Linked DNA regions of Homo sapiens. The protein of the gene in region 2 purifies or fractionates together with the protein of the main gene of each other region. This does not show direct contact. Each region holds a gene or a part of one and is shown on either strand. Other genes may lie near its edges.

Evidence for each region.
Region 1: the proteins of USP40 (region 2) and HDX purify together in Homo sapiens (affinity purification with mass spectrometry, with the first as the bait; one large-scale study listed by BioGRID). This does not show direct contact.
Region 3: the proteins of USP40 (region 2) and ACTR3 purify together in Homo sapiens (affinity purification with mass spectrometry, with the first as the bait; one large-scale study listed by BioGRID). This does not show direct contact.
Region 4: the proteins of USP40 (region 2) and DBN1 purify together in Homo sapiens (affinity purification with mass spectrometry, with the first as the bait; one large-scale study listed by BioGRID). This does not show direct contact.
Region 5: the proteins of USP40 (region 2) and LIMA1 purify together in Homo sapiens (affinity purification with mass spectrometry, with the first as the bait; one large-scale study listed by BioGRID). This does not show direct contact.
Region 6: the proteins of USP40 (region 2) and TPM3 purify together in Homo sapiens (affinity purification with mass spectrometry, with the first as the bait; one large-scale study listed by BioGRID). This does not show direct contact.
Region 7: the proteins of USP40 (region 2) and ZNF185 purify together in Homo sapiens (affinity purification with mass spectrometry, with the first as the bait; one large-scale study listed by BioGRID). This does not show direct contact.

The regions. Positions count from the first base shown.
Region 1 is NC_000023.11:84,320,954-84,324,453, forward strand, and holds part of HDX (highly divergent homeobox), read right to left. Parts: intron 1,062-3,500; coding exon 936-1,061; 3' UTR 1-935.
Region 2 is NC_000002.12:233,521,783-233,525,282, reverse strand, and holds part of USP40 (ubiquitin carboxyl-terminal hydrolase 40), read left to right. Parts: intron 1-720; coding exon 721-791; intron 792-1,793; coding exon 1,794-2,113; intron 2,114-3,500. UniProt on the Homo sapiens protein: May be catalytically inactive.
Region 3 is NC_000002.12:113,952,589-113,956,088, reverse strand, and holds part of ACTR3 (actin-related protein 3), read right to left. Parts: intron 467-3,500; coding exon 383-466; intron 1-382. UniProt on the Homo sapiens protein: ATP-binding component of the Arp2/3 complex, a multiprotein complex that mediates actin polymerization upon stimulation by nucleation-promoting factor (NPF).
Region 4 is NC_000005.10:177,463,635-177,467,134, reverse strand, and holds part of DBN1 (drebrin), read left to right. Parts: intron 1-72; coding exon 73-224; intron 225-299; coding exon 300-363; intron 364-3,500. UniProt on the Homo sapiens protein: Actin cytoskeleton-organizing protein that plays a role in the formation of cell projections. Required for actin polymerization at immunological synapses (IS) and for the recruitment of the chemokine receptor CXCR4 to IS.
Region 5 is NC_000012.12:50,273,521-50,277,020, reverse strand, and holds part of LIMA1 (LIM domain and actin-binding protein 1), read left to right. Parts: intron 1-3,500. UniProt on the Homo sapiens protein: Actin-binding protein involved in actin cytoskeleton regulation and dynamics. Increases the number and size of actin stress fibers and inhibits membrane ruffling. Inhibits actin filament depolymerization.
Region 6 is NC_000001.11:154,161,313-154,164,706, forward strand, and holds the end of TPM3 (tropomyosin alpha-3 chain), read right to left. Parts: 3' UTR 501-3,394; downstream 1-500. UniProt on the Homo sapiens protein: Binds to actin filaments in muscle and non-muscle cells. Plays a central role, in association with the troponin complex, in the calcium dependent regulation of vertebrate striated muscle contraction.
Region 7 is NC_000023.11:152,971,067-152,973,974, forward strand, and holds the end of ZNF185 (zinc finger protein 185), read left to right. Parts: intron 1-207; 3' UTR 208-2,408; downstream 2,409-2,908. UniProt on the Homo sapiens protein: May be involved in the regulation of cellular proliferation and/or differentiation.

The DNA.
Region 1 (3,500 bases), on a different chromosome or scaffold from region 2:
AGGTAAATTTTGTGGCAAAGCTGAATGACTAAATTTTTAAAAAATCTCAGCAGCTTACCTTGACTTCCTGTTTCATAACATGTAAGAACTAAAAAAGAATTATAAAGATGGTGATAAATTTAAAATATTTGTGTAACACTTCATCTAACCCAGGTATACAAATTTACTACTGGAATGTCAATCGTATCAATACTTGTCATTTGTAGTAATGAAGAATCCCCATCAAGACTAATTTTGACAACATTTTGTTTCTGTACACTTCGTAATTTATTTGACGTTATGTTGGTTAAATTACCTTTCCATTGTGCTTCCCCACCCCCACACAAATATTTGGGTTAGATAATAGAAGAACACCAGCAATTTACAATTACATACCTGTAATCATTTAATTTTCAGTCATTAGTTTAAGTCAAATTTTCATAGGGGTTAAAAACTAAATCAGAGAACTCATTAAATAATGAGTTAAATAATTTTTTAAAGTTTTGTTTTAAATGTTCAGTCCACTTTCCTGAGAAAAAGTGTAAGTGGATGATAGGAAAAGGAGAGAAGAAGAAAGAAGATGTAATGGCTACAAAAACAAGACTAATCAAGCTGTAGCAACTTGATAAGCAATGCTGAAATGTCTTTAGTTATTTTGTCTCTGGTTAGAAATTAGACATAATGAATTTCAGGGTTAAACTGCTGAAACTTAAATATAATTTTTTTCCAGAGTTCCATCAGTTAAAAAAATACTCTCTCAAACAATGCTTTTAAATTTCACCTACATTTTTGTTGCACTGTAGCCATTATATCTTGTACATTCTTCACAGAATACGTCCGTTTCAACAATGTGTTTTCCCAACTAAAGAATACCAGGGCAACAGAATGCAGTTATCTTGAAATGCACACCTGTTACGAAGCCAAAAGACTGTATCATATATTCCCTCCAACTGAAATCACAAACTTTCTGAGACATTTTTCTCTGACAAAGAAGATACACTGAATGAGGTATCATCAGGCTCCAGTGAGGCATGATTGAAATCCATTTCCTCTAATTCAGGAGGTAAATCTGACAGCAGTGCCTGAATAAAAAAAATAATATTTTTGGATTAGTATGTGGATAGATTGTTTTCCAATTTATATTAATAGTTGTAGTCCTCCCATGGTGAATTATCCTTATGGATTTAAAGAATAATTTATATTTCAGGATCTTAGACAATGCCTTACCTAAAAGAAAAATTCTTCATACATTATTCAGAAGGTAACAAAATTCTAGATGTTGAAAGTGTGAATTCTGTAGAGTAGAACCTGTACAAAGGGGATATTAGGAGGGAAATGAGCAACTCTTCTGAACCAAGTGCTTTGAAGTGTTTGAGGTTAGTGATTTTCATACTAGTTTTGAGTGTGCATTGATCACTGTTTAAGGGATTTAAAATTGCGTTCTTTGTTAAAATATTCATGCCAGTTATGCTGTCCTTTGTAGAAGACTGCATTTAACAAAAGACTATTTTGTTCTTCAGTGGGAGAAAGAACTTAGTAGTTAGGAAAAACCTCCAGCTATTTTACTTTAGACTAAATTTTAACAACTTGAAAAGACCAAGTAATTTTATTTTTTCTTTCCTAAGGCTATGTTCATACCTACAGATGGCCAAGCACCCACCAGGGCACAGCTGAATCAGTGGATCTATCTGTAGTAATGATGTATCTGGAGGGCTACTCATTTCTCTGCTTGAGTAATAAGGATAATCCAATAATGATGAAATAAGCTTTGTCATGGTCTAATTGTTTTATCTGAAGTTGTAGAACATGCACCCATTCTAAAGAAATAAATGATTAATCAAGTTTTACGCAGCTGACAATGCTAATGTTCACTTGACCATGAGGAACTTTGAACTTAATGATTGATTTGCTGCTTCCAATACTAAGAATAATGTAGCATATCTGGCAATTTTTAGACAGTATTACTTGTAATGTGGGCTTTGGGTGCAGTGGTAAATAAAGACCAAGGGAACAGGAAGAAATGAAAGCTTGTCACTAGCCAATTAAGGAACAGAAAGGGCATGTTGGAGAATATATGAAATCCACTGTTGAAATAAGACAGTATGCACTCATTCTCTTTATTAAAATAAGTGGCAGCTGCAAATCCTATACTTCCTGCCTTGTAGCACAGGGGCAAGATCAAAACATTCTCATTTTTATCAGGCTATGTAAGGGAAGACTAACCCCTATCTGGCAGACTAGCTGTTATTATTTATTTTATAAAATTGAATTTCTCATTAATTTATTGCTGGAACTGAGAGTATATACACAGTAAACTAACTTAAAGGTAATGCCTGCTTTCTAAGTGGCTAGATTGCAGTAATAGGACACGGAGCCATTTTCTCCTAGAAAAGTGTTTTACCACTAACCCAGTCCCAGTGCAATGGGGTCTTTTCTGACATTGGCTGATCAGTCTATATGACATACATCACTGGATTTAACTCGCTTTGCAATTCTGAAGATGCCATATTAAAGAGGAGAAAGTGTTCAAATTAACATTGACTGAACATGTTCTTAGAGTCAGAAAGTCAAGAGAATAAGATTTCATGATATTCTAATTTCTAATTTCTAGTGGGGAGATTACAAATCAAAGAAGCATTATTATTTATTTCTTTGTTACTGCATTATAAGTAGTTGAGTAAAATGAGTGCAGTAAAAAATATAAAAATTTTAATATCTGAGGCAGCATAGGGCACAACTAATACATGTGGTCCACTTTAAAATTCTTCTTTCAATATCTTACTAGATTTGCAACTGAAAAAAATCTTTGGATTATAACAATTGTTGGAACTGCCTTTTTCACAGATACTAACGTGAATACGATTAACTTTCTTTATTACAAATGTTTCATAAATGACAACTATCCTCAGGGTCTGACCTACGGTCATTTTTCCCAAGAGATTAAAGCATTTTCCATATGCTCAGATCTATAACACTTATTCTAGACCCTATGGTATGAATATCAAGTTCTGTAGTATTAATCATTCTTATCCCACTTGCAAAGTGGAGAAATTGAAGTTCAAGAAACGCAATTGATCTGGCTAGGAACACGCAGTGAATTATCAGGGGAAGCAAGACCATAGCAAATGACTAAGTATAATGCTGAAAATATTACTTTGATTTTAAAGTGGCTATTGATTTAAATAACAACAACAACAAAATCTTTGGGTAATCTAGTGTTTCAGTCAGAGAGTATCACATTTTGTAAACCCTGGACTACTTCAATGGTCCAAAATATTCTGTGGACCACACATCTGACTCAACTTACACAAATCAAGATTAATGGAAGAAAACTGAAGATCTTTTTTAAAATTAAAAACCAGTGACATGTGGTTGTCTTTTATTAGGTAGAATAAAAATTAACTCCTTCCAGAAATAAACCTATAAATATTTCATGATGTAAAGATCAGTAGTTTAAGCGATTACCTAGATAACTTTTTTGGACTACTATTCGTGTCTTCTATATTTTGTGACCATATTCT
Region 2 (3,500 bases):
AAATTCTTCTAACATGGAAACATTTTATTTTTTCTGAAATTAAGGCTACCTCTACTAAAATTTCTTGAAAAGCTTTAGAATTTTTTATATTGACACATATTGTTGAACAACATAGTTTCAAACCATCTGAATCATATTTATGTGACTTGATTTTCTGCCCAGTTCTCAGCTTCAGATTTTGTAGTAAAACAAGAAATACTTTGAGAGTTTGAAAGCATTTACTTCCTTTAAATAGCAGGAAAACAATGAGAATTAACAGTAGCGGCAGTAACATCTAATTTGGGCCAAAATCTGTAATAGGTGTTTTATGTTAATTATCTCACTTGATTTTCATAAAATTCTTTTATCTCCATTTCATAAATGAGAAAACTGAAGCTGAGAGACTTGAAGCACACAATACAGCTTGTGTTATGGACATATCGGTGGAGTTGGGACCATTCCATGCTTAAGCCTAACTCCTGTTTCCAATGTCATGTGCCTCAAGTACACTTGACCTTTGGATTATCTCTCTTGTCCTGCCACCATGCTCACAAGCTTTTGTCACAACGTTTTAAAGAAAAATTACAATGAAATAATGTCAATAGAATAAAAATAATTACTACTTTTTAAATTTTCCTTAGTGAAAATACTTTTTCAAACAAATATTTGTCTCAGCTCTTTCTTTAGCTCAGTTGTTTCTGATGGTCATGATGAATGGTCTCACTGGTGATCTCTTTCTAGGGGATGAACTGACACTGTGTGAAACTGAAATTGCTGATGGGGAAGACATCTTTGTGTGGAATGGGGTGGAGGTAAAAAAAATTACTGAAGAAATATTCGTGATAATTTTGGATGTTTTAAAAGTCATCGTAATGGCCGGGCATGGTGGCTCATGCCTGTAATCCCAGCACTTTGGGAGGGCGAGGCAGGCAGATCACCTGAGGTCAGGAATTCAAGACCAGCCTGGCCATCATAGTGAAGCCCCATCTCTATTAAAAATACAAAAATTAGCTAGGCATGGTAGCGTATGCCTGTAATCCCAGTGACTTGGGAGGCTGAGGCAGGCGAATCGCTTGAACCCGGAAAGTGGAGGTTGCTGTGAGCTGAGATTACACCACTGCACTCCAGCCTGGGTGACAGGGCAAGACTCCATCTCAAAAAAAAAGTCATTGTAATGAAATTTTATTCAGCCTATGTGAGGGCAATTAGATATTAGAAAACTACTGAAATGCTTGATAAATGTTAGGGACAATCAGTGCTAGTTGTACGCCAAGGAGACATTTCTTGAGCGCCTCCGTTATACCAGGTTGTGCGTCAGATGCTAGATCAAAGGCCAGTCAGTTGATCTGTGTCCTTTTAGGCCCTCGTCGTGTGAAGAACTGCACCATACGTGCTGGAGTAGGGGGTCTGTGCATAGTGCCTGTGGGAATTTAGAAGAGTGAGAATCTATACTGAGTTGGGGAGTGGGGGTGGTTTGGAGGTAGAGAGTGAATTTTCTATCTCTAGAAGGCGGCCAGGAGCACTTCAGCCACTCTGTGAACTGACCTTGGCCAATCTGGCTTCATCACCACCCATGATAACTCATAAATGTCTATCTCCAGTCTATCATAGATTTCTCCTAAAAAAATAAAAGATAAGAAAGTTTCAAAAGAAAAATCTGAAGTTGTTCCTCTGATGCTTAACAGACATTTGTGAAAATTTTATTTTACTTGGAAAAAATGAGGGTTGTTCTCTAAGAGTAATCTTTTACCATGTTATGTTGACGGTGTTGGCAAATATCAGCTGTACTAATGGTTGTCTTGGTATGATTGCAGGTTGGTGGAGTCCACATTCAAACTGGTATTGACTGCGAACCTCTACTTTTAAATGTTCTTCATCTAGACACAAGCAGTGATGGAGAAAAGTGTTGTCAGGTGATAGAATCTCCACATGTCTTTCCAGCTAATGCAGAAGTGGGCACTGTCCTCACAGCCTTAGCAATCCCAGCAGGTGTCATCTTCATCAACAGTGCTGGATGTCCAGGTGGGGAGGGTTGGACGGCCATCCCCAAGGAAGACATGAGGAAGACGTTCAGGGAGCAAGGGCTCAGAAATGGAAGCTCAATTTTAATTCAGGATTCTCATGATGATAACAGGTAACTCGCTAACAAGAGAAAAAGGATTTCTAAAAGTCATTTTAATTACAGTACCACCCAGCAGAACTCTAAAGCTTTATTTTAGTGACAAGAGTTGAATGTTTCTTTATTTCTAGACATTATGTTCTAAATATTGCATACAGGAATGTTTTAGGTTATGTAACTTAGAGAAAAACATGATTTTTTGTAAAGGGACTTTTTGGTAAATGTGGTGAGAAAATAATATAAGTATCCCTGATTTTCTAGACTGTATAGAGTATCAATTAGTTGGCTGTAATGCAAAAGTTATCAAGTGAATTCTGATTAGTGCCAGTTATAAAACCGAAGGAAATTCTCACAGAGAAAACTGAAAATTTTCCTGAAGAAGGTATTAACATTATGGCTAAATTGTTTCTGGATATTTTGTTTCAGGAGACCCATAAGACAACTCATTGTTTCCTTATAATCCGTTCTGTGACTCTTGAGAACCCAGTTGCCCAAATAGAGCAGTTACGTGGCGAATTACCCCCATGAATCCTGTGGTCACATTTAAAGCTGCATCTCTTTGTCATCTATGTCTGTGACAGTACATTGCTGTAGTCAATGTGTCATACACTGTAACTGCAATATTTCCATATATTGAAGACTTCAAGCTCCCTGTTTTCTCAGTGCTACAGATTTACTTAGATTGCAGGATGTCTGTATCATTATTTATAGTGGCTTTGATGCAGAGAAGCAGAGCACTTGTGGACCGTTTCTTTCGTAGTACACTTACCACTATTACTCTTTTGGACAGGGGTTTTGCAGACATTCCCTACCTTGTTTATAAGAACTGTATTTCCTTTATAAAAGGCAGTATGCATTTATTGGGACTGGGGAAATACAAAAGTGAAGACAGAAGGGACCCAAAACAGTATCCGTCTTCTCAGCATGCAGTGTTAATCACTGTTAGCATTTGGGTGCCTTTCTTTTTAAACCTAATAATGATTATTTTGTAGATAAGTAGTTGTATCCTGCTTTCCATTACCCCTGCCCAACCTTGAGATTTGTAGACTCTTTATAAACTGCCTTGAATGGCTACATAGTAATCTATGTGACATTATAGTTTGCCTAACTGTGCTCCTAGGCAAGTCAGTAGGCTGTAGTGGGACCTTGGGCAAGGTATTTCGTCTTTCTCTGCTCAGTCTTCTTGTCTGTCAAATAGGGATAATAACTAGTGCCAACTTCATAGACTTGAGAGGATTGAAAGAGTTGAGTGCTTACAAAGTACACACAGTAAGTGCTAAATGTTTTAGTTAATATATTACGGTCATTGTCATAATTATCATACAGTTTTTCACTATTTTAAAGTAGTCTTCATGGAGCATCTTGTGCTTCATACTTTGTTTTATTTGGGATTGCTAGCTTA
Region 3 (3,500 bases), about 120 Mb from region 2:
TAAGACCTCATCTCAATAAAAAATAATAATAATAATAAAGGCCAGGAGCAGTGGCTCACACCTGTAAACCCAACACTTTGCTTTGGGAGGCCAAGGTGGGCAGATCCCAAGGTCAGGAGTTCAAGAGTAACCTAGCCAACATGATGAAACCCAGTCTCTGCTAAAAATGCAAAATTAGCCAGGTGTGGTGACGCATGCCTGTAGTCCCAGCTACTTGGGAGGCTGAGGCAGGAGAATCACTTTAACCCAGGAGGTGGAGGTTGCAGTGAGCCAAGATCATGCCATTGCACTCCAGCCTGGGTGACAAGAGCGAAAGTCCACCTCAAAAATAAATAAAATAATAATGATAAAATAAAATAAAAGTAAGCTTCATCACACTCACCGTGGAAGCCAGCATTGATCCTCCAAACCAAACTGCATATCGCTGCATGTGGTGTGTAATGACTTGTACATCAATAGGTTTTGGCTAAAGAAAGACATAGTATGATCATCTTCATAGTAAATTCAAATAACAACTTCTGTGTCATTTAACCTTAAATGTACATATACAAAAATAATATCTGTACTAAATTCAGGTGGTATCTTACAAACCAGAAACAATTGAGATTGGCTGTCTCAGAGGAAAGGGGTTGGGAACACTGTGGAAGAGACAGGGAGGGAACAGAGCAGAATAAATGGAAGGGAAATAACAATGAGCACATGTTTTATACAGTTCTGACTTTAAGAATCTAAATGTTAGTGTTTTACATACTAAAAAATAACACCTTAAAAGAAGGGGAGGTTGGGGCAAAACAAAGTACAACAAAAACAAATTAAACTAATTGTACTTTTTTCAAACATAAGCACACTAAGGTGAGGAAAGGGACTAACACAAGCAACTTGTGAGCATAGTATTTTGAATCTTATAAGCCTTCAGGCTGAAGATAAAATATAAGCAAATATTGAATTCTAGTTTTGGGTCTATTTTTCACAGTGGTGTGGATTAACAATTCTGAAACTATCATATACATATTCCAGGATTAAGCAAAAACATAAACATATTATAGATAATAGGAGCCAGGTTTCTCACTGTCAGAGAAGGGCATTACAATATGGAAGGGCAGAAAACTAGAGTGAACCTTCTATAACTGGAGACGTCTGTAAAAATTCATGGTTTTAATTTATGTAGAGAATTAGATATAGATGTATAAACACACACACACCCCTAGCTCTAATCACTGAGAAGGCCTAGACTCAGTGATACCCCAACAGCAATGAGCACAAAGCTTGGTTTCTTAGTAACGTTCTCCACTAACAGGAATAAGACAAGGGTGTCTTGAAGAAAGAAAAGGAGAAAAAAAGGGCTGATTCCAGGGCCAGAAAAGAGAAAGTACAAGATCAGCCTGAAACACCTTGCTGTGCCGGGAAGTACAGAAGTAGGCAAAAAAAAAGATGTGGCTGCATCAAAAAAAAAAACCTAAGAGCCATTTGAATAACTCCCACTGGTCAAATCTGAAAAAAAAAAAAATGTGGGATTAAAATTAATGATGAGTGGTATTACTGATATTATGATATTACAGTGATATTAAAGATATAGACCACAAAATGAGAAATCAGGAGTTCATATAGATATTACTAAAAGAATAAATGAATGTGGGAGAAGGGAAAACTCTTGCTTATAGTAAAACAAGTCTTAAAAACATAGAAGGAATGACAGAAATTGCAAAACTCCATTTAGCAACTACCACAGTAATAACTGTTTTAGGGAAGAATCACAATGGATGCTAAAAACTAGTGACTGAAACTTAAAAGAGAAACAGGATAGTCTGAAAGTGTCTCCTCATTAGATTCTTATTAAATATAAAGGAAAACATAATAACTTTATAGTGAAAAAACCTGGCAGACACAACTTCAACCAAAAGCTCAAAATTCACACACAGGACAAATTCTATCATGTGTCTACTGATACAATGCACTAAAAATGATACAATATCAATTCTGTGGCATCACTGCCAAAAGTACATAATCTGAACCTACTCAAGCAGAAATATTAAACAAACCCAAGCTGAAGGATATGCTACAAAATAAATGGCTGTACTCTTCAAAAATGTCACATTCATTCATGAAAGACAAAAAACATTGAGTATGTAACAGACTGAAGCAACACAATAAGTAAATGAAACATGCAATCCTTGATTGGATCCTGGATAAGGGGGAAGAAGGTATTTTGTTTTCCTTTTGTTATAAGGGACATTAGTGAAACAACCGGTAAAATTAGAATCAGTTCTATAACTAGATAACACTGGATCAAGGTTAATTTCATGATTTTGATAATTGTAATATGTTCTTGATTTTAGAAATATACTAAAATGTTTGGGGATAATGAACCATCATATCTACAATTTAGTGTGTGTGTGTGTGTACACACACCTATTTATAGAAACAGAATGATATGGCTTTTTTCAAAACTGTTTGGTTGCCATTAAAAATTACAGACTGAAGGAAAATAAAGCCAGAGATAGATAGATAAAGGCATGCTATTAAGATCTATAAAAGTTACTAGCAAGTAAAACTAAGGTGAAGAAGGCAGAGTCCTCCAAAACACAAGGTTTTTCCTATACATGATGAGCATCCCAAGTCTGAAAATCCAAAATGCTCCAAGATCCAAAAACTTTTTGAGCACCAACATGATGTTCAAAGGAAATGCTCAGAATTTCAGATTTTTGGATTAAGGATGTTGAACCAGTATATAATGCAAATACTCCAAAATCCAGAAAAACTCAAAACCTGCAACACTTCTGGTATGAAGCAATTCAAAAAAGGGACACCCAATCTGTTTCTTTCAATATGTCGATACGGTACTGATCACTGGGTAAATTTATTTCTTATTTACAAGTGTAAAAAGAGCTTAAAAATGTTAAACAATCTCACTTTTTTAAAATACTATACTCAGAAACATACAGCATTGTTTTGTACTTATATATCTGTAATGAGTTATTAAAAACTAAACAGCTACTTTAATACATCCATAACCATACCATTAGGACAATCAACTTCAATCTTTTAAGTATTCTAACAAAAAAACCAGAACATGCACTATGTTCATTCACATAATCAATGTGGTTAGTAGGATTCTCAGTACAGAGAATTTATACTTGCAAAACCCAATGACTTCTTTTTTAGGTAGGAGGTAGGGTAGATAGATATGTGGGTAAGGGGAGTAGACGGATGGGCAAATGAATGGATGAATGGGGGTGGGCTGGTGGTTTGGTTGGTTGGGAAGGGGATGCAAAAGCAAACACAACATTTTAAAAGTCTATTGAGTAGACTTCCTGAAGTGTGAAGTCATGACATTATAGGGACAGAGTTCAATATTTTGCCTTCCACCCAAAACATATACTTTTTACTGCATTCCTAGGGATAGGTTTACTCAAGATAATCAAAATATAGGCACTGACAACAGTCAGCCATCATGCAATTTCTCAACAATCAGCAAACCCTAGAGTGCTGTGCTTTACTTT
Region 4 (3,500 bases), on a different chromosome or scaffold from region 2:
GGGAGGGGCTGGAGGGGCAGGGTCCAGGCGCCTAGGCTCGGGGCCTACCCTTGTTCGCACCGGGGCTTGCAGAAGGAAGAAGAGCTGCGGAAGGAGGAGGAGCGGAAGAAGGCCCTGGATGAGAGGCTCAGGTTCGAGCAGGAGCGGATGGAGCAGGAGCGGCAGGAGCAAGAGGAGCGCGAGCGGCGCTACCGGGAGCGGGAGCAGCAGATCGAGGAGCACAGGTGAGCCTGCCCGCCCGGAGCGCTCCAGGGGCCCCCGGGCGCACCCTGACGGGTGCTGGCTGCTTATCGTTCCAGGAGGAAACAGCAGACTTTAGAAGCGGAAGAGGCCAAGAGGCGGTTGAAGGAGCAGTCTATCTTTGTAAGTTCTTTGCCAAGGCTCCCGGTCTCTGGGTCAGGGAAGTGAGAATGGTCCCTGTGTTCCTGGGCCTTGTGGGGAGATCAGTGGCTCAGGGACAGTGGTGGCTGTTCTGGGGAGCTGCATGGGCACAGGGTGCCATGGAGCATGAGGCCTGGCACCTCATCACGTGGGGCTCTGGCCTCTGGCCGTGGAAAAAGACTACTTTGGAGAAGCTTGTGCTCTAGATTGGAAGAGAAACTCCATCTAGACCCAGACCCTCACTGACCAGGCTCCCCCTCCCCTGCCCTGGGGTTTCTCGGCGATTAGACACTGTTCTGCACTCTGAGGGGCCACAGGAGTGAGGCAGGCGGCATGGGTGAGCCTGGGCCAGTGCTGAGCATCTGCAGGCAGTGTGTACCATCTCCTTGGGAGCAGCATCTCCCTGGGAGCAGCCCCTTTGTTCCAGGGGTACTGTCTGAATCTCCACACATTGGGAATGGCCCGTAGGTCCTGTGGATTGGTCCCTGAGAATCACAGCAGAGTCACATCTCCATGCTTTGAATTTAGTATTTTGGAAATAGCTAATGTCATTCAGGACTGAGCATGGCTCAGTTCAGGAAGGGAGGTGGGTTGATACTCATCTGGATTGGGACTGTAATGGGCAGATGCATGGCTGTGGGGACTCAAACGGGCTCCGGAGTCACCCACAGGAGGCTGAGAGAGAGGAGGCAAGACAGTCCTGCAGGCAGCAGCATTAAGTCACTCCAGTCACATCTGCCCTTGGATGGGGTGGGGATGATGTGTGGCTGGTAAGCTCCATCCTCAGTCATTCATTCAACACACACCTGCCACCTGCCACATAAAGAACATGGTGGAGAACGAGCTGGGTAAGATCTTTTTTTCATAAGTTGATTCATGTATTTTTTTTTTTTTTTTTTGAGATGGAGTCTCACTCTGTCGCCCAGGGTAGAATGCAATGGCGTGATCTTGGCTCACTGCAACCTCCATCTCCCAGGTTCAAGCGATTCTCCCGCCTCAGCCTCCTGAGTAGCTGGGATTACAGGCGCACACCATCATGCCTAGCTAATTTTTGTGTTTTTGTAGAGACTGGGTTTCACCATGTTGGCCAGGATGGTCTTGAACTCCTGACCTCGGTTGATCTGCCCGCCTCGGCCTCCCAAAGTGCTGGGATTATAGACGTGAGCCACCGCGCCTGGCCACATGTATGTAACTGTGGCAAAATACATAAAATGTACCATTTCAGTCATTTTAAAATCTGCATTTCATTAAGCGGCATTAAATTCATTCACATTGTAGGATAACCACCACCACCATCCATTAAACACAAATTCTGCCCTTCCCCACTCGCCAGCTCCTGGCAACGACCATTCCACTTTCTGTCTCTATGAAGTTGACTACTCTGGAGACTGCCTATCAGTGGAATCGCACGGTGTTTGTCCTTTTGCGTGTGGCTTATTTCACTTAGCATGATGTCCTTAAGATTCATCCATGTTGTAGCATGCATCAGAATTTCCTTCTTTTTGAAGGCTGAATCATATTCCATTGTATGGATATACCACATTTTATTTATCCTTTCAGAGTGAGGTTTTTTAAAATTTTTTTATTTTTTAAATTTTTTTGAGACGGAATCTCGCTCTGTCGCCCAGGCCGGAGTGCAGTGGCGCCATCTCAGCTCACTGCCAGCTCCGCCTCCCAGGTTCACACCATTCTCCTGCCTCAGCCTCCAAGTAGCTGGGACTACAGGTGCCCGCCACCACGTCCGGCTAATTTTTTGTATTTTTAGTAGAGACGGGGTTTCACCATGTTAGCCAGGGTGGTCTCGATCTCCTGACCTCATGATCTGCCCACCTCAGCCACCCAAAGTGCTGGGATTACAGGCGTGAGCCACTGCACCCGGCCTGCCTCCCAGGTTTAAGTGATTTTCCTGCCTCAGCCTCCCAAGTAGCTGGGATTACAGGCGCCCACCACCACGCCTGGCTAATTTTTGTATTTTTAGTAGAGATGGGGTTTCACCATGTTGGCCAAGCTGATCTTGAACTCCTGACCTCAGGTGATCCACCCGCCGGCCTCACAAAGTGCCGGGATTACAGGCATGAGCCACCGCACCCAGCAGATAAAGTTTATTATTTATTTATTTATTTATTTATTTATTTATTTATTTATTTATTGTCTTTTTAGTAGAGATGGGGTTTCACCATGTTGGCCAGGATGGTCTCGATCTCTTAACCTCATGATCTGCCCTCCTCGGCCTCCCAAAGTGCTGGAATTACAGGTGTGAGCCACCTCACCCAGCCAAGTTTATTTATTTATTTATTTTTATTTTTTTGAGACAGAGTCTTGCTCTGTCGCCCAGGCTGGAGTGCAATGGCACAATCTCAGCTCACTGCAACCTCTGCCTCCTGGGTTCAAGCGATTCTCTTGCCTCAGCCTCCTGAGTAGCTGGGATTACAGGCGTGCACCACCATGCCCAGCTAATTTTTGTATTTTTAGTAGAGACAGGGTTTCACCGTGTTGGTCAGGCTGGTCTCGAACTCCTGACCTCGTGATCCACCTGTCTCGGCCTCCCAAAGTCCTGGAATTACAGGCGTGAGCCACCGCACCCTGCCTGATAAAGTTTATTTATTTATTTATTTATTTTTATTTATTTATCTTTTTTAAGATGAAGTCTCACTCTTGTCCCCCAGGCTAGAGTGCAATGGCGCCATCTCAGCTCACTGCAACCTCTGCCTCCTGGGTTCAAGCGATTCTCCTGCCTCAGCCTCCCAAGTAGCTGGGATTACAGGTGCACGGCTCCATGCCCGGCTAATGTTTGTATTTTTAGTAGAGACAGGGTTTCACCATGTTGGCCAGGCTGGTCTCAAACTCCTGACCTCAGGTGATCCTCCCACCTCGGCCTCCCAAAGTGCACTGCACCCAGCCCTGATAAAGTTTATTTTTTTGCTAACATTTCAAACATACACACATGCAGGTAGACAGAATAGTGTTGTGAACCCCCTGAGCTGATTTATTTTCACCAGTTATCAACATTTCAGGTAAAGTCTGAAGGAGCTTACCATTATTTTATAGTCCCATCTGGCCCTTCAAGTATAGTTCACGTGAGAGTGACAGTGGACATTCTAGCAGGTCAGTGTGGTACC
Region 5 (3,500 bases), on a different chromosome or scaffold from region 2:
ATACAGAACCATTCTTAGTGTTTTTCTTTGAGATTGGTATAAACTCTTCTAAGAATATTAATTTTTTGTCCTGTGGTCAAATATTTAACCAGTTTGCCTTTTAATTTTGTATATAGTATATTATTACTTATCTATAGATTTTTTTTTTTTTGAGACAGTGTGTCACTCAGTCACCCAGGCTGGAGTGCAGTGGCACAATCTCGGCTCACTCTAGCCTCCTCCTCCAGGGTTCAAGTGATTCTCATGCCTCAGCCTCCCAAGTAGCTGGGATTACAGGCACATGCCACCACGCCTAGCTAATTTTTGTATTTTTAGTAGAGACAGGGTTTCTCCATATTGGCCAGGCTGGTCTTGAACTCCTGACCCAGGTAATCTGCCCGCCTCGGCCTTCCAAAGTGTTACAATTACAGGCGTGAGCCACCACACCCAGCCTGGATTTTTAAATTTGAGATTTCTTCTGGTGCTGTGATGTTTAGAAGGCCTTCACCATCCAGAGATTGGTTAAATACTCACTTTCATTTCCTTCTGATTTTTACCGTTTTACACTTTATATTTAATTCTTTAATTTGTATTGAACTTACTTTGAAGTACCAAACCAATATGTTTAATGCCTTTGTATATCTGAGTTCCAGATCTGTATTTCCAGCTACCTGTTAGGCTATGTGGATAGTCCCTGTACGCCATGCATCTGCGTACACCCAGATTCACTAAGGAGAAAGCTTGAGGTTGTACTTACCACTTTAATACTTTTCTCCACCCACATTTGATCAATCCCCAAGTTTGGCTGATTCTGCCCCAGGGGTGATAAGAGTTCTTTAATCAGTCTTCTAATTCAGATTCCCCTTTTAGTTTTTTGCCAGAGTCCTTGAGTCCTTGAGTAATCCTTAGAGTTGGCTTCAGTTTTTCCCTTGCAGAAAAGTTATCAGAGTTGTCATAAAAAAAAAAAGCACTGATTTTCAAAATATGGTTCCTTTAATTGCCTGTGTTAGAATTACCTGGCAGTGGTTAAAAAGGTAGAGTCTCAGGTCCCACCTAGACCTGCAGATCAGTGTGTCTGAGGGATGGGCCTGGGAACCTGAAGTTTATCAAGTACCTCAAGAGATTTATATACAAACTTAAGGGGAGACAATGCCTAAGTAAATTCAGTCTAGCTTTCTGACATGCTCTTCAAGACACCCACACCCCCACTCTGACAGCCTATTCTTTTAGGCTTATCTCCCACAACACGACCCACCCACCTGGCACTGTGACCCTACAATAATTCTCTGTTTCCTGGACCTGCCCAGTTCTTTCCTGCCTCTGTGCCTTTGCTCATGCAGTTACCACAGCCTCATGCTCCTCCCCTTCCCCACCCTCTTGTTGAAATCCTTTTCCTTAAGAGCCCAAATCAAATGCTACCTTTTTAAATTTTTTTAATAAAAAAAAGCCTTTTCTAATTTCTTCTACTTGAATCAGTGGCTGCCTCCCCAGTCTTTATACTTAACACTTGATTTTTGCTTCATTTCTTACCTTACTTAATGTTGTCACTATTTATAAATTATTGCTTCCTTGTAAGATTACAAGCCTTTTAGGTATGAGAACCTTTCCCTTCCTTTTCATTTTGTGGCCATTATGCACATATAAACAATTAAGAACTCATTTTATTTTATTATTTTGAGACACAGTTTCATTCTGTCCCAGGTTGGAGTGCAATGGCGCAATCTCAGCTCACTGCAACCCCCACCTCCTGGGTTCAGGTGATTCTCATGCCTCAGACCTCCGGAGTAGCTGGGACTACAGGCACGCGCCACCACGCCTGGCTAATTTTGTTTTTTTTTTGTATTATTAGTAGAGACAGGGTTTCACCATGTTGGCCAGGCTGGTCTAGAACTCCTGGCCTCAAGTGATCTGCCCACCTCAGCTTCCCAAAGTGCTGGGATTATAGGCATGAGCCACCGCACCTGGCCAAAGTACTCATTTAGTACATGAAATATATCTGATCTTGCAAACACACTTTTATATAATAATGTTTGGCTTTGTATCACACATAGAATAAAATTAAAATCCTTTAGCATTGTTATTAATCCGTATTTAATCTGACTACTACTCATCTCTGTGTCATCGCATGCTTCTCACTTACTTCCTAGCTGTATTATTCCTTCCTCAGGGCCTTTGCATTTGCTTTCCTCTACCTGGAAAACTCCCCCATCTATTGTCTTCACCTTGCTGGCTGCATATGTTCTCCCCATCATTCAGGTTTCAGTTCAAATGTCATTCACTCAATGAGGCCTTCCCTGATCACTGCCTAAAGAAGCTGTTCGTGTCCCTGTTCCTACCACAACTCCAGTTACTCTTTTTGTATTTCCTTCACACCACTAATCACAGTCTTTAATTGTCCGGCTTCTCCAGTGGAATGGAAATTTCATGAGAGTAGAGACCATGTCTGTCTTTTTTTTTTTTGAGATGGAGCCTCACTCTGTCACCCAGGGTGGAGTGGAATGGCACGATCTTGACTCACTGCAACCTCCAACTCCCAGGTTCAAGAGTCTCCTGCTTCAGCCTCCCAAGTAGCTGGGACTCCAGGCACCTGCCACCACACCCAGCTAAATTTTTTATTTTTGGTAGCGACAGGATTTCACCATGTTGGCCAGGATGGTCTGCATCTCTCGACCTCATTATCCGCCTGCCTTGGCCTCTCAAAGTGCTGGGATTACAGGCGTGAGCCATCGCGCTCGGCCTTGTCTGTCATTTTTAACATTATATCTTCAGCACTTGGAATACTGCCAAAGACTTGGTAAATGCTAAATAAATATTTGTTGAATGAATGAATAAGCCTTGAAGATGGACTTTTCATTTGGACAAGTCTTGTTTTGTTTTGCAATCCAAAGTGTTGTATTTTTTTTAACTGGACAACAGCTGAGGTCGGTCCATCTGGGTTCAAATCAGGTAGCAGTCTCTGAGGAGTTCGGAAGGTAGCAGGACAAAAGTTTGGATACTGTGACAACCAGGATTAAGTTCCATCTGAGTGCAAGTTTTCTAAGGTGTTTCCAGGATCCAGGCCACTATTTTCCTACCACTATAGCCATCTACTTCCCAGATTGTTACTCTGGATTATACTAGTCTATCAACTCCTATTACATTTTCAAAAGCCAGTGTGGCAAAACTAAAACCCAATTACTGGAATCCACAAACAACCAGAAGTTTTCTTCTGTTTTCATTCTCTAGGAGAAAAATTAGAAAGCTATCTAGAATCTTCAAGAAAAAATGAAATGATTTTCATTATACTTACTATTAACACATGCTCTGAAATGTGTTACTGTTTAGACACACTGTTTAGACAGTGTACTGATTAGAAAGATTTTCAGCAACAGCTTTAAACAAAAGGTTTCTTATTAACATCTAGTTGAACCAGACATTATAATGAATTAGTTCTAATTTCTATTTCTTTTCATTGGTTAGTCTTTTTTAATTCCATTTTTTTTCTTAATGCTGGCTTGAAGTTTTATTTAAAATAATGCTTT
Region 6 (3,394 bases), on a different chromosome or scaffold from region 2:
CTCTCAAATTTCCTGTGATGTTACATTACATATAGATCTCGTGAACAGCCTGAATTTAGATAATACCTATAACCAAGTTAGTTTGTGTGATTCTCACTTGGGAAAGAAGGATGTTATCAGGATCCTTTTTTTTTTTTTTTTTTTTTGAGTTTCACTCTTGTTGCCCAGGTTGGAGTGCAATGGTACGATTTTGGTTCACTGCAACCTCCACCTCCCAGGTTCAAGCGATTCTCTCGCCTCAGCCTCCTGAGTAGCTGGGATTACAGGCACCCACCACCACGCCCAGGTAATTTTTGCATTTTTTTTTTTTAGTAGAGATGGGGTTTCACCATATTGGCCAGGCTGGTCTTGAACTCCTGACCTCAGGTGATCTGCCCGCCTCCCAAAGTGCTGGGATTACAGGCATGAGCCACCGCACCCAGCCGCGTTATCAGGATCTTTATCCCTCAAAGCAGCCTGGTCAATTCTTTTCCATTTAGGGAAGAAATAAAGAGACAGAGAAGGAGTGAGAGCATTTTATTGCCTGACTAAATCACAGAACACAGAGTTTCCTAGGAATTGCATGAGGTCAGAAAGACAAATGCAGCTGTTCTCTCACTTTGAACTTAGTTTCTAACTCTGCTATCTCTAGTTATTAAAAATTAAGACCAGTACTAGCTCCTTAAAGTTTTTGGTTCCCTGATAATAGCTAAAACAAAACAAACGAAAAGGCAAGGCAGAGAACCTATTTGGTCTAGCGTTCTTTTCAGCTATATCTAATTAAGAAACAACCCCATGGCCAGGTGCAGTGGCTCAAGTCTGTAACCCCAGCACTTTGGAAGGCCGAGGCGGGCAGATCACGAGGTCAGGAGTTTGAGATCAGCCTAACATGTTGAAACCTAGTCTCTACTAAAAACACAAAAATTAGCCGGGCTTGGTTGCACGTGCCTGTAATCCCAGCTATTCAGGAGGCTGAGGCAGGAGGATCACTTAAACCCAGGAGGCGGAGCTTGCAGTGAGCCAAGATCACACCACCGCACTCCAGCCTGGGCAACAGAGCAAGACTCCGTCTCAAAAAAAAAAAAAAAAAAAAACACAAACCAACCCCATGGAGTTGGATAGTATTCAACCAACACCATGTGAAAGGAAGAGATTTGGTTGGGGCTAAGATAAAGCTGCCAAACAGAATAGGTCTAAGATAAAGCTGCCAAACAGAATAGGTCAGTTGTACCTATCAGATAACTTGGGGTTACTACATCTTATTCCTTATCTCAATGATGGTAACAAGGAAGGGCAAAATGGGCCTGTGGTTCTTAGAAATTAAGAGGGGGTAACATTAAGGGGACAAATGTTTTACTCTGATGCTTGACTTCACCCCAATACTAGTCCAGGCTCAAGTAACACAGGATGGCTTCTGCAAGGATATTAAGCCTTAAACAAAGGAATGAATTTAGCATTAGCACTAATTACATAGTACTTCATTGTCCACTTTGGTACCCCAGTTTGTTGGTCTCTATCCTTGGCTCACACTAGTCATACCGCAAGGAAAACAGGAGATACCACAGATCAGAGCTATAACACCTTACTTTTCTCCCAATCTCCCTCTTATTTCCTTCTTTTTTTTCTCTCCTGCCTCAGCCTCTCGAGTAGTTGGGACTACAGGCATGTGCCACCATGTCCAGCTAATTTTTGTATTTTTAGTAGAGACAGGTTTTCACCACGTTGGCCAGGATGGTCTTGATCTCTTGACCTTGTGATCCACCTGCCTCGGCTTCCCAAAGTGTTGGGATTACAGGCATGAGCCACCATGCCCGGTCTACTTCCTTCCTTTCTAAGAAGTCTTTCTTCATGTCAAAGCCAACTTCTGCCCAGGATCTGAATATTTAGAAATGCATTGTCCAATATAATAGCCACTAGCCACAGGTAGCCAAATTTAAATGAACTACAATGAAATACAATTAAATTTTAGCCCCTCAGCCACACTAGCCATGTTTTGAGTGCTTGACTGCCACATGTGGCTAATGTACTAGACATCATTACCAAAAGTTCTGTTGGAAAGCCCTGCTCTAAAGTAAATTATATTGCCTATATAATCTTCCTACCAATACACTCTTTTGCCCCTGAAAATGACTCCTCCTCTTCACTTCTTAACACTCAAAATGTACCCTCAAATTACTAAAGTATCAATGCATGTCCCATTTTCAGTTATCTTCCTTCTTAGCCTCTCTGTTGAAAAACCACTAGAAAGCATCCAACCCGGAACTTTTTAAAGAACTACTCAACCGTCTTCTTTCCCTCCAATCAGTTCCATTTGGTTCCTCCTCTTACATAACGTTTTCCTCATTGTTTAATTTTTTTTTGAGACAGAGTCTTGCTCTGTCACCCAGGCTGGAATGCCGTGGCACAATCTCAGCTCACTACAAGCTCCGCCTCCCGGGTTCACGCCATTCTCCTGCCTCAGCCTCCCAAGTAGTTGGGACTACAGGTGCCCGCAACCACGCCCAGCTAATTTTTTGTATTTTTAGTAGAGACGGGGTTTCAACGTGTCAGCCAGGATGGTCTTGATCTCCTGACCTCGTGATCCGCCCACCTCGGCCTCCCAAAGTGCTGGGATTACAGGCGTGAGCCACCGTGCCTGGCCTCTTTTTTTTGTATTTGCAATTGTCCTTCATGGTTCTAATTTACCTCCATGGCATAAACTACCTGTACCCCATATGGATTCCCAACTCTCTTATGTCAACCTCTCTGCCTCACGCCCTAGAATTTTGTTTTCACCCAGATACCTGCCAGATTGTCAGCCGTATCTTCTTTCCCTTCCCCCAGCTCCCCAAACCAGGACAACATGATCTCCCTACATCTTTAACCCCACCACTTTCCTACTCTTTTTTTGGGGGGGGTCTCATTCTGCCACCCAGGATGGAGTGCAGCAGTGTGATCACAGCTTGCTGCAGCCTCAGACTCCTGGGCTCAAAGGATCCTCTGGCTTCGGCCCTCCAAGTAGATAGGACTGCAGGCACGCACCACCATGTTTGGCTAAGTTTTTATATTTTGTAGAGACAGGTTCTCACTTTATTGCCAGGCTGGTCTCGAACTCCTGGATTCAAGAAATCCTCTCACCTCAGCCTCCTAAAGTGCAGGGATTACAGGCATGAGCCACTGCACCCGGCTAATTCTCCTACTCTAAAAACCAGTCATCCTTGTCTTTCCTCCTCACATCAAGTGGCCAGGCCTTTCACAATGCCTGTCTTTATTTAGTGCTATCTCTCCTGCCACTACTCTAGCTCAGACCCTGATTATTCTCTCCTAGAAAACTAAATTAACCTAACCCAATTTTTTCCAAAGTGTGGTGTATTCACTGCTATAGTTACTTTAATGTGATTAGGAAAAAACACTAACACATCAAAACTTTGATTTC
Region 7 (2,908 bases), on a different chromosome or scaffold from region 2:
TTTATCACGGTGTCTGAGCACAGAGCAGAATATATCCCTTGAAGGCAGTAGCAACCAGGCTTTCCACTAGCTCCATGCTGATGGTCTTCTCTCCAGAAGACACACCTTGAGCTAGGTGGTAACTCCTGATGACTGGAGCAGTCACCCACCCTGAGGGCCTCTAGCTGATGTGTTTCCAGTCTCATGGCTACTTCTGTTTTCTTTTAGCGACCCCCCACCGCCAGGCTGATCAGAAGCTGATGACTCGTGGACAAATTTGGCTGTCCCCAGTTTTGCCCCAAGTTGCTGTCTCCCCTTCCCTCACCTCCTCCCTCCCTGTTTGATTTCTTCATGCTTTTGCCCTTCTCAAGTTGAAGTTGCATACATCCAATATCGTATCTTAATGATGCTATGATAATTGCTTGTGTGTGTAGCTTCTTGTAGCTTAGAAAGCGCTTTATGCCCATGATGTCATTTCAGGCTCAACCAAAGAGGATCAAACAGGAATTCCATCTTGGCTTCCCTAAGACAGATTGGCTTTCTAATGAGTTTAAGTGGGCAGAAGTGTAGGGTTCAGTGTGTCCTGACTCCCTTGAGGCTTATAATGGGCCAAGTTGAAGACTGTTGATGATCCCTGGTGGGTAAATTGCAGACATCAAATGCTAGGGATTGGCATAGGCTAGTGTTTAGCTTGTCTATTTGCCATATCTATTTTTTTTAAATTTCCATACACTTGTAAAAGTAGTTAGTTGCTTTTGATTGAGTTATATAGCAGTTTTTCATTTGGTCTTCCACTCACCTTTCACTATATTTGAGTGTTCCCTTACAGGTATGTTGGCATGTGTTGGAAAATTTACACAATTAGGTTTAAATTCAGTAGGATGTGATTTTAGGATGCTACTGATCAAAGTGATATCTGTGTCTGTTGGAATCTTGATAGCTGATTAATTTGCCCTCAATTCTGCTCCCTGAACTTCACACATAAATCTTCCCAAGTGGGTTTTAGGGTGTATAGATCCCAGCAGGATTAAGGAGGTGGAAAAGCAGCTAACATTTCTTGAGGCTCTACCACATAGCAGGCACTGTCACAGAGTAATGGCATTAATCCCCATAATAATCCTGTGAAGGTGATATTCTCATCCCATCTTAGACATGAGGATATTGGAACTCAGAGAGGTGGCTATTGCATTGCGCAGAACGCTACAGAGCCCATGCTCTTCCCAGAGCAGCACCCACAAAAGCAAGCATTGATTTTGTGCTCAGTGTGTGCCAAGCACTGTGCAGAGGGTACACAGTTCCTGCCAGGTTAACACCCTCCCTTCAGGCCTCCCAAAGGCATAGGCTTGCAAAGAGCAGAAGGTGTGAAATCACACTCTTCCTCTGGGCATCCTGGATCCCTGAATTATCCCCCCCCCCATGAAGTACTTCAAGGGCCAAGCTGCCCCTTTCCCTCCTCTCCGCCCATGAAAATGCCTCCAAACTGAGATGCTTTCAGCTGAGAACAGATTTGACTCACAGACATTACCAAAGAGGAGCTTGTGAATCCAGGAAAAGCTCCAGGGGGCTAGCTGATCTGAGCAGAGAGCTTTCAGTGACCCATTTTCCTGTCTAGACTCTGCCTTAAGCTAGTGGCAACTGCTGGGGCCCCAGGTACTTGGGACATGGAAACTCGTTGGATGGCTGGGCAGATGTAAGCCTGTCCATGCAGTCAGCCGATCCTCTGCTCAGGTTCAGCTGGACTCTGCCATCTGTGGGCCCAGCATCACTCTGTAAGTTCCTTGAAAGGAAGAACAACCTTAGAGTATTTCTGATACAAAATGAGGGCCTCTGCTCTTGATTTAATTATAAAATGTCTACGTCTTTCTCCAGTTTCTGAGCCCTATGCACATTGGCTTGTGGGCTTGTTCTTCCTGCCAAATGATCAGAGAGGAACATTCCATTTATTTGTAGTGGATTTCCTCTGGAGGGCATGTACCCACACTAAATACCAACTGCTCTTCCTCAGCTGTAGTCCCCAACATCAGACTTGGCACGTGGTGGACACTAACACACAGGCACTCAATGAATGAGTGAAGGAAATAAAAGTCACCCCGTTGGTGAGAGGTGCTATCCCTGAGTCTCAGTGCAGGACCAGTGGATGAAAGGCAAGGTAAAGAGGCCCAAGATAGGCTGGCTTCCCCCGTTCAAGGTATAGTCTGCCTTTAAGGGAGTTTTAGAACCAACATGCAAGACATTGAAAGAAATCTTGCAAGAGCCATTATTGACTTAGATCCAAAACAGCCTCTCTCATGTCTAAAAAGGCACAGAATTTTGCAGATCTGAGGAAGAGGGATGCATTACCTTTTTGCTTCTTTTCAATTGCTTAGTGTTTCTAATCATACTTAATCCACACTAATGTGCGCAATTATAATAAATGGTAAGATATCACATGTGTCAGTGTTAAAGTTTTCTTTTGAAGTGTAATAACTTGGTGTATTCAGCTGTGTGATTTCTTTATTCCTATTGCCTGAAGCCATTCTCTGTACAAAAGTAAACAAGTACTTAATAGCAAGCTCTAGACACTGGGCATGCACAGGAACTGTGGAATTCTAGACACATCAAATCTTAATGAAGAATATTGTATTGTGGCGGCAGAGAGCGGGGGCGGTCCATCCTTCTCATGATTACCACTGCAGACAGACAGCCACCTAGTCATTAGTGCCCACTTCCAGTGACCAGGAGCTCAGTTCCTTACAAGCCCCTGCTGTCTGTGGTTTTAGAAGATGCATTCTTCAGTTGAGTTAAAGTCCATTTCTGTATGTCACCCACTGGTGGTCTTTAATCCCTCCGCTAGATGCCAGCTCTTAAAATAGATGAAAATACTTCTCAGATTCTGTCTTGGTCAACTCTTCTCACATTTAAACACCCCTGGTCCCTCTAACTCTTCCTT